Regions from separate parts of the Homo sapiens genome. Here region 1 is linked to region 2. Evidence: fine-mapped expression QTL. Tissue or cell type: fibroblasts. Region 2 holds a variant in brackets; the other region holds the start of a gene. All regions are shown on one strand. Distances are from middle to middle.

Region 1 (8,108 bases), 110 kb after region 2:
GCCGTGAAACTGTGGTCTGGTCAGTGTTGTTGAACTGAATCATAGCTAGTAAACAAGATACATGCAAGTCCCACATGCAACACACTTGTAATGTATTTTATACACTATACTTTTAGTGTATTTTATTTTCAACATTTCATGAAAAATGTTAGGTAATAAAATTGAGCACAAAATTTGTAAGTGGTAAGACAACTCAATTTTCCCCTAAATTTCATTTGAAAATAATATAAGGGTACATATTTAATTTTTAACTAAATTTAAGACTCATATATCCAAATATTTTGGAAAAGTAGAATGCATTCTTACCTGAAGGACCTTCCTAATTCTTTTTAGATTGTGTATCAAGAGTAGGTTTTTCTCTTTGGAAACACGACCTAACTGTTCATCCAGTTGTATTAACAAGTTTTGAAGAAGAATCGTTGCCATGGTTTCATTGTTAGAAGCTGCCTCCCTAAAAAAAAAAAGGATTATTACACAACAGAAAACAACTTTGTAAAATGTCTACTTTTTTACCATACTAACTTTAAAACAATAAACCTATTACATGGTGATAAGCATTTAAAAGTTTTAAAAAATTAAATTGTTAACATGAAGAGATGCTCAACATCACTAATCATTAGGGAATTTCAAGTGAAAATCAGAGTAAGATACCACTTCATACCCATTAGGGTGGCTATTATAAAAAGGAAAAGAAAAAACAGAAAATGAGTGTTGGTGAGGATACAGAGAAATTGTGCAATGCTGGTGGGAAGGTAAAATGGTCAATCACTGTGGAAAACTATATGACAGTTACCCAAAATATTAAACATAAAATTGCTATATGACCCAGCAATTCCACATCTGGATATATACCCAAAAGAATTAAAAGCAGGGACTCAAACAGATATTTGCATACCAATGTTCCTAGCAGGGTTATTAGCAATAGCCAAAATGTTTGAACAACCCAAATGTCCATTGACAGATACATTTATAAAACAAAATGTGATATATACAAACAATGGAATATTATTGAGCTTCAAAAAGGAAGAAAATTCTGATATGATACCTGTTAAACATGAATGAATTTTGAAAACATTACACTAAGCAAAATAAGTCAGTTACAAAAGGAAAAATATTGTGTGATTCCAATTATCTAAAGTACCTAGAGTAGTCAAATTCACAGAGACAGAAAATAGAATGGTGATTGCCAGGGGTTGGGGGTGGAGGACTAGGGAGTTACTGTTTAAAGAGTACAGAGTTTCAGTTTGGAAAGATGAAAAAGTTCTGCAGATGGATGGTGGTGATGGTTGCATAATAATGTGAATATATGTAATGCCACTGAATAGTACACCAAAAACAATGGTAAATTTTATGTTATGTGTATTTTACCACAATAAAAAAGATGGCTGAAAAAAATTAAATGGTATAAGGTGAATAGAGCTTTGAAGAGTATAAATCTTACTGAGAAAAAAATATTGATTTACATTGAGTCTGTGATAGAGAACTGACAATCAATTGATTTGCTTCTTTTTTTAATACATGAAAAATTATTTGGGTTTTTGTTTACAGAGAAAAGAAGCACTGGAACCATTAACTTTTCATTTACAATGAATGGAACCAGAAAGGACAATTATTCCCCTTCTTTGGGAAGGCTTTCAAATCCTTGAGAAAGTTCTTTACCTGAAAAGAATGCATCTACTGAGTAAAAAGTGGACCATAAAATAAATTCACATGGATAGAGCATCAGACATTTGTGCATCAACTTCTAGGGAAAATATGTTTGATCCTACCAGTCTTGATTTTCAATCCATTGGGCCAACAGATGCCGAATTTCCATGGGAAAGTTGTCATCATAGAATTGATCCACCTGCTCCAAAAACTTGATTTCTAACTGTTGGACTTGATTCCACTGAGACATGCTATAAAAGAAGGTGTAGAATTAGAGTTTTAAAATATTGTTCATAGCCCTAGTACATATTTTCTTCTTTCCTTAGAATTAGTCAATGTTATGACTGAATTCCAATATATCCAAGGATACAAAAATTTCACTAAGGTTTTTTTTCATAATTCAACCCTAATGAAGGGAGCAGCCTTCTTTCTGTGCCCCTAAACTACAGCCTTCCTTGCTCTAAAATGAACTCCTGTTCTACCTGCTCCAAAAAGTTTTCACTCCCACTCTGCCAAACACCCCACATCCTGCCCACAGCTGTCTATGTGAATTTCTATTATCAACAAGCTCTTTCCCTATCTCTTGTCCCCTCAACATTTAGACTTGGAGCAACTTGAAGGCAAACGTATTTGACATTTACTATACCTCCTAAAACCCTCTAAGACTTTATATGTGAGGAACAACCCCCCAAGAAGCTTCTTTTATATGAAATTGCCAAATTTCTTTTTTCTTTATTTCAGATTTGTCTGGCTTCTAGAGTCAGCTTTATGTTCTTGACTTCTAGTCCAATTTTGTCTTAGCTTCATGAAGAATTTTATGTATGCATTTTCGTAGGCTCCAGTTTTTTAAATTAAAAATATTTCTGAACCAGTGAATGTGTTTCATTTCTCTCTGTGAGGATCCATTATAGATGGGCAAAGCTCTTAAAGGATGTAGTCTTTTTGTCTCTGAGAAACATCTGATAGTGGTTAAACCCTCAAGTTACTTAAGGAGTAAGAAACCACACTTGATACCTATTTGGCAGCCTGTCATAAAAGAAAAGTACGCATTTCCCCCTTGTAACCCCACTCTGGCCAATTTAGAAGCTGTAGACATATTTCCTAACTCAGGAAAATTAGTATGACGCTGCCTCCTTGAAATTACAGCATTTTATGTTTTCCAAAGTCAAATTTTTGGTTGTTTTCTCAGCAATTCTAAGTCAAGTAAAAACACCAAACCCCCTTTTACATGATTAATCACCATAACATTTCAACATATCTCATAGATAGGCTAAGGTTTCCTTTTGCCTATAGAACACCAGGGTAATTTCATATATTTCATATACATATTCTTTGGGTTTTAAGTAGAATCATTTTGAGCACCTTTTCCCTGAGCTCCTGGTAAATGACTTAAAATTTATAAAAAAACGTGTTGCCAATGTTTTGCTAAAGAGAAAGCAAGTGGGAAAAGAAGTAATGTTTTATTTGCATATCATTTTATATTTATGAAAACCTTTACACTTTACAATTCTAGGCATATTGTAAATGCTCAATCAATGCTTGTTAAATGAAGAATGAGTGGCACTCCTGACATTGCTATGAATATGGTAGGTGGATATAAGTAGTATGTCAACTTTAAAAAGGAAAAACTTGAAGATCAAATAGGCGAAATGACGCCTGCCTAATGTGTGAGGCTTCTAAGGGACAACCTGAGGTTTCCTGAGTCTGAACCATTTGTTTTTCCAGATATCGGATGTATATATATTCCATCGGATGTGTATATATTCCACACAAAATTGGAACATTTGTTCTCATGCTACTATCAACATTGTCCTATCTATCAATTTATTTTAGTTAATGACAACAGAGAACATGAGTTGAAAATAGCATTACAGTTTTTCATCATACTATTGTTAAACCCCCGCTATGATTTGGATGAAAAATCTATTTTCTAACTAAAACTTACAGGTAGATGGGAGGAATAAGTTCTAGTGCTGTAACACTAGGATGAATATGGTTAACAATAACTTAGTGTATATTTTCAAAAAGCTAAGAGGATTTTGAATGTTCACAACACAAAGTAATGATAAATGTTTGAGGTGATGGATATGCTGAATATCCTTTGATCATAACACATTGTTCATATTTATTGAAATATCACTGTATATTCCATAAATATTTACAATTGTGTGTCAAATGAAAATAAAAGGAAAATTAAAAAAAATAAAAATAAACACCGAAAAAAATCACTACTAAGATCTGAGTCTTTCGGAGAGCTGAATTCAAAGCTGAAAAAAGGAAGAAGAAGGAATACATAGTCCTAGGACATTTTCTATTGCAGCCTCTGGGAACGCCTTTAGACATCCTTCAGCAGGTTTCTTTGCTTTCACTCTCTAGGGGCTACTTCTTTCTCATGAAAACTGTGACGTTGCTTCTGAAAACTCAGTGCCTGTCTGTCCTTTTTGCGTGCATTTCCTAGAAGATCCCACTAAAGGGGCATTTTGTCCCACCGTCTGTGAGCTGGTGGTGCCGCTTTGGCTCTGTGGCCTGTAGCTTGCAAAAGGAGATGACCTGCCCTAAAATGTCACTCGCGCCCATCAAAGCCACAGTCACCGGCTGCCGTAGCTGCAAGCTTTTTTCTGAAATCCAGGTACGCTAATCTAAAGTCAGACATCACAGCTCTAGAGAAGCTGGCTAAGAAAGTGAAGAGGGGCTCACTTTCAGCCTCCGCGAGGACACACCTCCGCAGCCGCCGCAGCTCCCCTGGCCCCCGCAGGGAGATTCGCCCGGGCACCGTGGCGCGGGCCTGCGGAGCGGTTTCCGCGGAGAACCCGTGCCAGGGCGCATCTGTGGGTCGTGGAGTCGGGCGCTTCCTTCTATAATAAGCCTCCTCAGGAAGGTTAAAATGAAGCAATTGTCAAAACGCCAAGGGAAAGCAAAGCTTCAGAGTATCCTGCATAATAAGCATGTCCTCCTTACAAGAGGCAGCCAGAAGGTGTGGTCTGGCCACTTACCTAGCGCTCTCTCAGCACAGGTCCCAGGCAGTGCTCAAGTCCAAAGTCAGAAGCGCCCCTCACAGTCCCTAGGAGAAAGCCGCTGACGCCATCATCAGTAGGGGATTTGCATTTCTCCTCCCACTTGAGGCTTTCCTGTGCGTCAGTGTTCGAGTCTCTGGGACTTTACTTGGGTCAGTTCCCACCCACTCTATTCTAGAAATGCTAACACGCAGAAACTGCCAGGCTGGAGCCCCTTCACCGGGCGTCCTCTTCCCTCTTATCCCTCCCAGCGGCTCTCGCAACTGCAGGTGGCTCAGCAGTGCCAGGAAAAAGGGGAGGGGCGGGGCATACATTTTCTTCAGTGGTTTCCTTAGACAATCTGAGATCCTCTGCAGAGTTACTTACCTGGAGCCCAGTTCTTCAGCTTCCTCTCTCCCTAGTATAAGGCTCCACTCAGCCTGGTGAACCACCCCTGGGATGGAAGGGATGGGTAGCCAGGATCAAAACACCAAACTCATAGACCTTACTGGGCTCCAATTCCAGCGGGGTCCGCTCACTCCGACGAGGGTGACCTGACCCAGAGGGTTGGGCCAAGTCCTGGGTAGGCCACCAGTGCTTGCCCTTCCTGACCTAGCCTCCTCCTACTCTCCTTGAGTAGCCTTGCCCCTGGTTGCTACGGTGCGTTCTTCTCCCTTTGTGACATCAGCCTGTTCTAGAATCACAGAGTTGGAGGAAGTCTTGGTCCCATCTAATGCTAAATCCTCTTTCATATCTGAAGAGACCCAGTGAGGTGACCAAGAGGACTCAATAAGTTAGCCACGGAGCCCGATAATAGCCCAGGTGTTTCCCTTCCCACTTCAGTGGTCTTTTCATTTCATCTCCTTGTAGTTAGCTCTTAACCCCTTGATTCACAGTAGGGGTTCAATAAAATAAAGAGAAGTCCAGGCGTGTGGCTCACACCTGTAATCCTAGCACTTTGGGAGGCTGAAGTGGAAGGACTCCTTGAGCCCAGGAGTTTGAGACCAGCCCAGGCAACACAGTAAAATCCCACCGTATATTAAAAAATCAATAAAAATGTTTAAGAAAGTAAAAATAGTAAAACAAAGACAAAAATAAAGACAGACAGACAGACTGAAAGAAAGGTAGAAAGTGTCACTCAATTTGGTTATACACATGCTTAGAGCAATATACCAAGGTGAAAGGCCTGCCTCCCTCTTCCCTGACGGGTTTCACACAGGTACACCCTCTGGATTCTTCTCTCCCAGGTGACATTATCATGTGCTTAAACTTACCACCCACCCCCAAATAGGTCAATCAATCCAAAGTCACACTTTCCATATCACTGTAAATTTCCTGGTTAGGTAGGCCTGGTCCCCACTGCTTGTTGAGCAGGCAGTTTCCAGGAGCTTATGCTGCTCTGACCCTACATAAGAAAGTGCCAATTTCAGGCTATTCCATAAGCTACTAAGCAAAGTCTGATTTTCTTCTGGAGAAGCTGTCACTGCCTATAGGAAAAAAATCCAAATTCTTGGCAGTTTAAGTTCTGTACAGTTTGGTCCCAACCTATCCAGGAAACTTTTCTCCCCTATAAGAGCCCATGATGTGACCCAAGCAGTCACCTCAGCTGCCCAGATTAACCTCATATTTCACTACCGAGGCTTTCTTCAACTGGATATTCCTCCCTGAGCCTACCTACTTAGTGAAATCCTATAGTTCTCAGTGAAGACTTCCCGATGACCTGAACCCACAGCAATGTTTCCCTGCTCCAAATTCTTCATACTTCCTGTCCAAACCAGCGCTCTCCAAGAGAAATAAAATGTAAGCCACATATGTAATTGTAAATTTTCTCATAGCCATATTAAAAAGGAAAAAAGCACAGGTGAAATTAATTTTAATATTGTAAATAACCCAATATATACAAGAATCTTAACATTTTGGCATATAATCAATATAAAAAATTATCAATAAGATACTTTGCATTCCTTATTTCATACTCAATCTCTGAAGTCTGGTGTATATTTAGCACTTACAGGGCATGTCAGTTAGGACTAGCCACATTCCAAGCCACATATGGCTAGTGGCTGCCGTGTTGGACAGTGCACATCTAGACCACTTATTTAGCACTTTTCACTTCCTGCCTCATAGTGTTAGTCACACTGGTTTTACATGTCCTTATCATTATCATATTCAATTGTTGAGTGCCTGCTGTACAAAACAGAGTTTGTTCTCCTCCTCCTTTTCAGGGCCTTACCTTGCGGCTTCCACAGCAGTTTTTAAACCTTTTGTTCTCAAGATACCATTATTCCCTTAAAAATTGTTGACAAACCCAAGGAATGTTTGTGTATTACTGTTCTGGATGAAATTTTTATTTACTGTGTTAAAACTTAAATCTGAGAAAAAATTAAAATATGTATTTATTCCTTCAAAATGACAATAATAAACCCACTCCATGTTAAACATGTTTTAAGAAAAACAAATATATCTTCCAACATGAAAAACGTAATGAGAAGAGTGGCATTTTAAAAATCTCTTTAATGTCTGGTTTGAGAGAAGACAGCTGGATTCTCATATCTGTTTCTGCATTTAATCTGCTGCAAAGTATTATTTTGGTTGACATATTTGAAGAAAGTATGGACTCACACATTTATGTAGTTGGAAAAGGGGAGTATTATAATGACCTTTTCAAATAATTATTCTTCTTTGATACCACATCAAAACTCAATGAGTGGTAGTTTCTGAAGGGCTAGTTGCATTGTGAAATCTGAAACCTTATCAACATATACTTTATGTATACTTTATGTAAACATATACTTTATGTATACTGTTACATTCAAATCTTTTGTTGTATATATTTTGAATGAAACTATTACCCACAAATTATTTTGCAATGTCAGACACTGGTCATTTAAAAAACATTGGTCCACTGAAGTATGCAGATTTTCTAAATGCTGCCTACTTCATCATACAATGAATACAACATTTCATCATACAGTGTTCAGAAATTCATGTCAGGTAATATCAATGTTGATCTCATCATGTAAGTATTTTAAATACTGGGAAGCAGTCAAGCTCAAATTCTAATTTTTGCTTGAAAGCTCAGTTTTATTATTGGCAGCAGATACTACCAGTTGTTTTCCTTAAAGTGACAGGCTCGTCTTGGCAACTCAAACAATCACGCAAGTGCTTTTCCTCGAGATGACCATCATCCTTTAATATGTGCCTTTTCCATTTCATCACAAAGAATATTAAAAAGACGTGTACTTAAGGTCTGAGATTTAATAAAATTAATAATTTTTACTGCTTCATCAAAAACATTCTTAAGTCAAACTGGCATTTTATTGTAAGTGCATGGTGGTGAAATATACAACTGCTAGTATAATTTGGCACCACTTCCTTGCTTTGTGCTAAGGCCCCAACAGTTTCACCCACCTTTGCTTTGGTACCATTGGTGCAAATGTCAGCAGGGTGAAAAGACAAAACTGTATT
Region 2 (8,108 bases):
ATGATTAACCTCAAATACCTATTTTATGGACACCATAGTAGTCTTTTCTTATTTGCTCTACATAATTAAAAAAAACAAAAACAGAGAAATGATCTCGCTCTGTTGCTCAAGCTGGACTTGAACTCCTGGGTTCAAGAAACTCTCTTGCCTCAACCTCTCAAGTAGCTGAAACTACAGGTGTGTACCATTGTGCCCAGCTAAATAAGAGAATATTCTGTGTGATCGACTACAAACGAGATTGTGCCAGAAACCAGGTCAACAATAGTGAAACATAAGACTCTGTCCCAGATTACTGGAAAACAGATGTGTGAAACTCAAGAAACATGTTTCAAGAAGAGGAAAGGAAGAATTCAGAAATCCAGTGCGGTGCCTGGAAAAGGCCGTTGTGAACAAGAGCTAAATTGGGCTTAGATTAATCAAGAAAAAGAACCAATTCAAGAGATTTCAGAAGGTGGGAATGAAAGAGGACACAGCATCCAACAAGGAATGGGCAATAGGAAGAGGAGGAATGAAGAGAAAGAATTTCTAGGGAGATGGTTTTTTGTGAACCTGAGAATGGTGCCTGGAAAAGTGACCAGAAAGCACAGAATACAATCAAGGCCTAAGGGCTTAGGTTTCAAAGCAGGATAGAATTAAGAGGAGAAACCAGGATTAGTTGTTTAGACTGGTTCTGTAACTAGGCTGTGAATCTGTGTTTTAGGAGCTGTATATTATCTATAGCTCTAGATTCTCATCCTAGAGCCATGTAAATTTGGGATGATGGGTGTGACGACTTTGGTGCCTTTCTTACAGAAGGAGGTTGCTGAAGAAAGCTAAGTGCAGCACTTCTCTGTGAGGCTGGAGGACAGAGAAGTATCCCATCACTCCTTCTACTCCCTGGAGTTGGAAGAAAGCTGAACATGTGTAGATCTAATGGGGATCAGCATTTAATCTCAGGGGCATTGGCTGTCCTTTGCCTTAAAGATCAGGCGATTTCTCTGGTAAGTTCTGCTCTTTTTGGGGCACCCTGCACAGTCTTCCTCTCTGCAATTAATTTGTCTCAGATGCTAGGGCACTTGAGGAGGAGAAGGAGTAGGCCTGAGTCATTTTCCTCGTTGTTTCCTTATTAGAACATTGAATCAAAGAGAAAGAACACTAACAGCTGATTCATTATGATCTTGTTCTTACTACTGGGATCTAAAGTAGAAGAATTCTTCCCTTTGGAGGGAACATTTGCTCTGAATTAAGAAGAAATGTTGTTATTTACATCTGACCTATTTTCTCTAGACCTCAGTGGTTTCCAGGACAACACACTGAGGTTTTGAAGGAGGGGTGCAAGGGGAAGTGCTGACTCATCTTTTTTGCCACTCCCTTCCCTGGTTGTCTTATAAGAAGAACACCTATTCACTGCTTGCTTTGTGACTTGAGGCCAATTTTGGGTCAGTGTCACAACGACCAGATAGCATTAAAACCCAGCTTGAGCCTAGGATGGATGAAATCTGTAATCCACTTGAAAATGTGCACTGTCAGAATACGATTAGGCAAGATTGATGAATATTCTACTTACTTACTTGGAAACCAATTCTCTACCTTTGTAGAAGAGACTGCATGGACAAGGTGGGACCAGAGCAGCTGGGGAGGTAAGAAGTTTCCTTCAGCTTAGTTAACAGAGTCATAGGATGGCCCTGGAACTCTCTGGTACGCACATAGTTGGCAGCTGACCAGACCCTCAGAAATAACAAATCCCTGTTACTTTTGCTAGCAGAATTCTCTCAGGGTCCACATATATCAGAACATACTACTTTAAATATGACATGAGAGGAAACATACAACTAGAAATACTACAAATAAAGCAACTCTCACCCCACACCCCACTGGCACACACATGTTTTGATGCAGATGTGTTTGTTGGCAATAAAACAAATCGAATAGCATTAAAGAAGTTGAGGTAGAAATAGAGTCTACCTGGGAATCGTTGGTTGACACGTTGTACCAAATGATGGATGCCCAAGCATTAGGTAACTGACTGACATTGGAAATCATCACCACAGGCAATGAGCTGGTCTGGTTTGGGGGGAAAAAAGCATAGTTATTACAGGTAGTCCCACCTTACATTGATCTTATGCTTGACCCTCGCCTCTAAAGGGCCAATCTCAAGCCAGCCCCACACCTCCAGTCCTGATGTCCATGGTGCCCTGGTCACTGAAATGACTTGTGAAGGCCATGGAACTTTCTGAGCATGCATAAGTAAGGGCACAGAGAGGAAAGAGCAGGAATCCTTTCAGAGTGCTCAGTCAGGCAGCTTCCCAGTATCTCCCCTGACATTGCGGACACATTTATACTTTTTAAATGTCACCCACTGTCTCAAGTGCAATATATTAGAGAGTCTATTGAATTAGCAACAATCTTCTCTATAAGTTAAATAAAAGAATCTATTTTAAGTTTATCTCTGGAATGAATCAGTACCTTCAAATTATGACCTAACACCTAATTAACATAAACACTGGAAGTGGGAGGTTTCTATTGTAAAAATAGGAGAGATAAGCTATGGGAGATAGAGCCGTCTGTGCTATTGTTACAGAACTAACTCAATTTAATACTCTTGGTTCTGTGGTTTTCTACTTTATGAGATAAACAGGCTTTTACAAATTAGCTTGGGAAACTAATCAACTTACAGTACTCTTTTCCCAATAACAGACATCAGATTCCTGTAGATGGTAAAATACCCATTTGAGGAACTTTAACAACTCATAAAAACAGAGGTTTAGGGAAAGGAGGTGAGGAAGGAATCTATGAAAGCTTTTGCAAACATATTACCATCATTAAGATAAAAGAGCAAAGGCAGAATTCTAAAACAATATACTCCACAATAGGATCATATTCAGGGTGTGTGAGATTGTGTTTGTTCATTCATGCACTGATTCATTCACGGTGTCCTGCCTTCAAGGAGCGCATAGTCAATTCATGTTCAATTTAATTCCAAAAGTTTCTTTATTCTTTCTTTGAGTTTAGTGGTGATTGTTTTATGAGGATCAAAGCAACATACTGTAATGTTCCTATTATTTGTCTTTGCTCATTATGTTAGATAAATCTTCCTTCTGTGAGTTTTTATGTAAAGTTAAATTTTTGAAAATATATTACTACAAAAAAAAGAAAATATATCACTACATGACATAAGCTCAAGGATACTTATTTCTCTTTAGGCTTTCCACTGAGTGTTCATGACTCAGGAAATCCCAGAAAACAAACAAACAAGAACTTGAGCAACAAATTATTTAATGTATATAAAGTTCGTAATACTCTTGAGCTTTTTATTTTCTTTTATTTTTTATTTATTTATTTTTTTGAGACTAGGTCTCACTCTGTCACCCAGGCTGGAGTGCAGTGGCATGATCAGCACTCACCGCAGCCTCCACCTCCTGGGCTCAATCAATCCTCCTGCCTCTGCCTCCTGAGTAGCTGGGACTACAGGCACATGCCACCACACCCAGCAAATTTTTGTATTTTTAGTAGAGGTGGGGGTTTTCACCCTGTTGCCCAGGCTGGTCTCAAATTCCAGGGCTCAAGCAATCCACCCACCTTGGCCTACCAAAGTGCTGGGATTACAGATGTGAGCCACTGCACCCAGCTACCCACAAGCTTTTATCATATATATTTAACCAAAATATTATGTTAACTAGTGAATATTTGACATATTGACTTTCTAAATTAAAACAAAATAATGAATATGGAATGTACTAAAACCTAGAAAAGACTGAGCTTACATCTATTAATGCTGACCAATTCTTGCAAATGCCATTAGTAAATAGTGTATGTTCTTGAAACACCTACCTCCAAATCTATGGTCAGGCCATAGAGGCAGATCTGTGTTTCAAACGTTATGGAATGAAGTTCTTCAGTCACCATGTGACAGCCCTAAGGAAGAGAGAAATAAATTGTTACCTCACAAATGCATACTCACTATCTAATAGAAGACTTGTTTCTATATAAATTAATATATTTATTAATAAATTAATAAAGTAAATACCCCCAAACAGTCTCTATTATTGAACATTCCCTCTTATTGTTTTAAAAGTTATATACAGTTTGGAAAATCTTCATTTCCCCAAACAGAATGATTTTAAGTCTTCAAAACAAGATAATTTCTGGCTTTAAAAATTCTGGCATAGTTTTTTTTCAGTTGAAATTTAGACAAGTTTTTCCTTATTTTAATGTTTGAAAATTGGTACTTTTGATTTACCAAATGTTAATAAAAGCAATCCATATATGCATAGGTATACAGATACAAGTCTTAGTGTCACAATGAATCTGTTCAAAAAGAATGCAAGACCTCCTTCTGGTTTAACATGGTAGGTGGAGTACATGTATTTTCCTCTGTTCCCTCCAGACACTCCAATAAGGTAATAGCTGGAGTTTTATTCACTTTCCAATAAAGTAAAACTGTAATCTAGATCCCTGAGTGAAAGGTAGGGGAGTGTAGAGTAAGGGTAGAAGAAAGAACCCAGAGGTTGAAAGCACTGAGCTCCCTGAGGCTGCAGAAAAGAAGACTGCAGACCAGGATGTGCTGTAAGAGCCCCAGCTCAGGCAGTGAGGTCTCCACCCCTCCAGACCTGGGCACAGG[A/G]GGGAGGTTTGCTCTTTGGAGTGGATGAGTCAGAGGAATTACAGAGGCTCTCTACATTCTGGGAACAAGGTCAAGCTGCAGTCAGGGGTTAGGTGCTGTGTGTGCTAAAGAGTGGAAGGTCCTGTTAAAGTTTACGGTTAAGCCCATGCTTGCCCCTTCTCCGACATCTAGAGCCAGGCTTAAAAGCTCCTGGAAAGGTATCTGGGAAGTTTGCCAGACCAAGGGAGGTAACATACAGCTACTGCCTTCTATACCCAACACCGTCCTCCAACACCCCTTTGAAACAGCCAGATTCTAATAATCACCCTAAGTCTACAGTTCTCAACACGCACATAGAATTTTCAGGCTGTTTTTTAATGCCCTTCTCTTAATTATTAACAGCAAGCTAATGATCATCAGGCATTTGACAAAGACTTTCACATGAAATAAGAATGCAAAAACAAAAAACTCAGAGGAAAAGCAAAAAGTAAAAATAAATAAATAAATAAAAGAATAAAAAAACAGTGAAAAAAGTCTACTGTATTCAGCTCAGTTTATTCAATAAATATATGGCATGTTGAAGGCGCAGATCAACCGTTTGTAATGGGAAGATAGTGCTTAGATACTGATTTGAACAAACCAACTGTCAAATGGCCTTTTTTGAGACAATAGAGGAATTTGAACAAAAAATAGGATTTTATTAAGGAAGCATTTTAAAAAAATTATTATTTTGGTTTTTGTGATAAGTGTATTGTGGTTAGGTTTAAACATTTCTTATATTCTAAAGATACCTGCTGAAGTATCTATATTATACTGTACTATCTAGAATTTGAGAACTCCAGGAAAAATGTATGTATAGGTGAAAAATAGGTTAAATAAGATAGGCAAAATATTAATCATTGTTGAAGTTAGGTGATGCTTAAATTCATTCATTGTATTCTCTCTTTTTTTTTTTTCTTTTTTGAGATGCAGTTTTGCTCTTGTTGCCCAGGCTGGAGTGCAGTGGCACAATCTCGGCTCACTGCAACCTCCGCCTCCTGGGTCCAAGTGATTCTCCTGCCTCAGCCTTCTGAGTAGCTGGGATTACAGGCATGCGCCACCATGCCTGGCTAATTTTGTATTTTTAGTAGAGATGGGGTTTCTCCATGTTGGTCAAGCTGGGCTCGAACTCCCGACCTCAGGTGATCCACCCGCCTTGGCCTCCCAAAGTGCTGGGATTACAGGCGTGAGCCACTGCGCCCGGCCGTATTCTCTATTCCTGTATATATTTGAAAATGCACATTAAAACACTTTTTAAAAACTATATAAAACAAAGATTACATCAGTGTAACAAGAATAGAATATTATTGTAAGAAACATTCTGAAAATAATAAAGAACCACTTAAAATATAATAAGAGAAATAGACAAGTCAGTAAAAAGATTGGACATAAAGTAGAGGAAATTTCCCAGAATGTAAAACAAACAAAAAAATCCCACAAAGACGTCAAAAATAGAATAGAAAAGATAGCAAATAAAGAATTAATATATGAACTGCAGCAACAAACTAACACAAGTTCTGGAAAGAGAACAGAGAAAATGGAGTAGAGGAAATGTCAAAGACATAAACAAATTGTAATTCTTATATACCACTTATGCAATTGTTACAATCACTTTGGAGAACAATTCCTCAGTATCTAGAAAAGTAGAAGATGCACATTACCTATACGTAACAATTCTTGTTGAATCATCTGATTCTGACTCATCTGCTACCAAATATATATAGGTCAAAGATTTTTTGCACTCATTAAAAAAAAAAGACATGTAGAAGAATGTTAATTGAAGAATGTTTATAGTAGAACTGCTTAGAATGCTAAAATGATTCATCAATAGGAGAATAGCTAGCTATACTGTGTATATTTATAGAGCAAAAAACTATACAGCGTTGGAATAAATGATCCACAGCAACATGAATCAACGTAGGAATGAGTCTCAGAAAATATTTTGTTGAGCAAGAAAAGCAAGTTGTGATAAAATATATACATAAGGATGCCATTTATGTAAAATCTAAATTTATAATACAGAATAATATAAAGTATATAGAAACATATTCATTCATAGAAAAAGTATAAAGGCATTCTTGAAAACAATAAACATCAAAATTCAAGGCAATGGTTATTGGGAGGTGGGTGGGTACAGAGAGGAAAAGGATTAAAGGCGGGGGTGGGGTGGGGGTACCAGGTGTCTTCAACTATATTTGCAAAGTTTGAATTTTTAAGCTATTTGATGGGTGTTCATGCTATTATTCTTTATGTTTTTACATGTTTTCAATAGTCTATAAAAATGAATAATACAAGAAAACTTCTCAAAGTAAAGGACATGAATGTTCAAATTGGAAGGACCCATGAATGGCTGGCACAATAAATAAATGAAGGACCACACCAAAACTCATTGCTGTAAAATTGCAGGAAACCAGTTTAAAAGTTTCAGGAGTGCAGGAATAAAAAGGCATTTATAAATGATTAAGAATCAGAATACAAGATAAGTAGAAGACAATGGAAAAGTGCTTTAAGAATTTGGGGGAATAATGATTTCTAACCCAGAATTCTATATCCAGCCAAACTATCAGTCAACTATGGATGGGAAACACTTTTTCAGATATGCAAGTCCTCTGGAAATTTGGCTCCCTAGTACTTTTTCTCTGGAAACTACTGAAAGAGTCTCTCCAATAAAAAGGAGACAGTAACCTAAGAAAGAGGAAGACATGAACCCAGCCAGGAGAAGGGGGTGGGACTCCCTAGGATAACGGTGAAAGGGAGTTTCAAAAACAAACGAACAAAACAATAAACAAAAAACAACTACCCCACAATTGCACAACAGGATCAGAGGGCAAGTAGCCAGGACTGGAGCCAGAAGATAGAGTGCTCCCAGAGCGATGTTGCCAAGAAAAAAGGAAGAAAGGAACTCATAGATGGACATGTTTGACCAAATTGTAAGGAGTTTTCTAGTTCTGATGGAAAGTTTGGGGCTTAATTAGTGACAAGTATGTAAATTAATCAAATAAAAAACTCAGGGAAACTATTAAATCCAGAGAAAACTAAAAGTAATACAAGAATGGAAATACAATCATAGTATGCTATATGGCTTAGCTGTTAACAATTTTTATATAATCATAGTAAGGTAAACATCGAATACATTGAGTAAACGAAAATATGTTATATAATGATATTGTGAAGATGGGGCAGAATTTCTACATATGGAGAGCTGTAATAAGAAAGACATAGCTTAACCTTTTATAGAAAATCAGAAGTTAGACATATAAAATTTAAAAAAATCAAGAGATATCAGTATTAGCATGATATTTACAGCTCAAAAAATAATCACCTCTGGGGAGGAGTTTGACATAGAAAGAAGTAGGAAATTGCAGTTAGTCCCTGATGAAATTTTATAGTAGGTAAAAAAGGACCAGCAGTATTGCCATCGCCTAAAAGTTTGTAAGAAAAACAGGATCTCTGACTTCATTCCAGGCTTACTGAATCAGACTCTGCATTT

Which allele goes with the higher level. Alleles are on the strand shown, and positions count from the first base shown. SD is a standard deviation of normalised expression in the study named.
In carriers of allele G in region 2, the expression in fibroblasts of the gene that starts at base 4,688 in region 1 tends to be higher than with A alone (small effect, 0.26 SD a copy in GTEx).

Evidence for each region. PIP is the estimated chance that this variant, and not a neighbour inherited with it, causes the effect.
Region 1: it holds the start of STAT4, and the variant in region 2 is fine-mapped to the expression of STAT4 in fibroblasts (GTEx, PIP above 0.99).

Annotation. Positions count from the first base shown.
Region 1 is chr2:191,146,307-191,154,414 of GRCh38, forward strand. STAT4 (signal transducer and activator of transcription 4) reads right to left here and starts at 4,688. Exons shown (of 24, transcript NM_003151.4): 1 at 4,641-4,688; 2 at 1,770-1,898; 3 at 307-451. The coding sequence starts at 1,897. RefSeq lists a silencer at 4,328-4,377 and enhancers at 4,848-4,897, 5,028-5,107.
Region 2 is chr2:191,037,255-191,045,362 of GRCh38, forward strand. STAT4 (signal transducer and activator of transcription 4) reads right to left here. Exons shown (of 24, transcript NM_003151.4): 15 at 3,811-3,894; 16 at 1,945-2,043. Among named protein-coding and RNA genes, the nearest start is that of STAT4-AS1, 20 kb to the left of the region's middle. The variant A/G (reference allele first, on the strand shown) is at 4,601.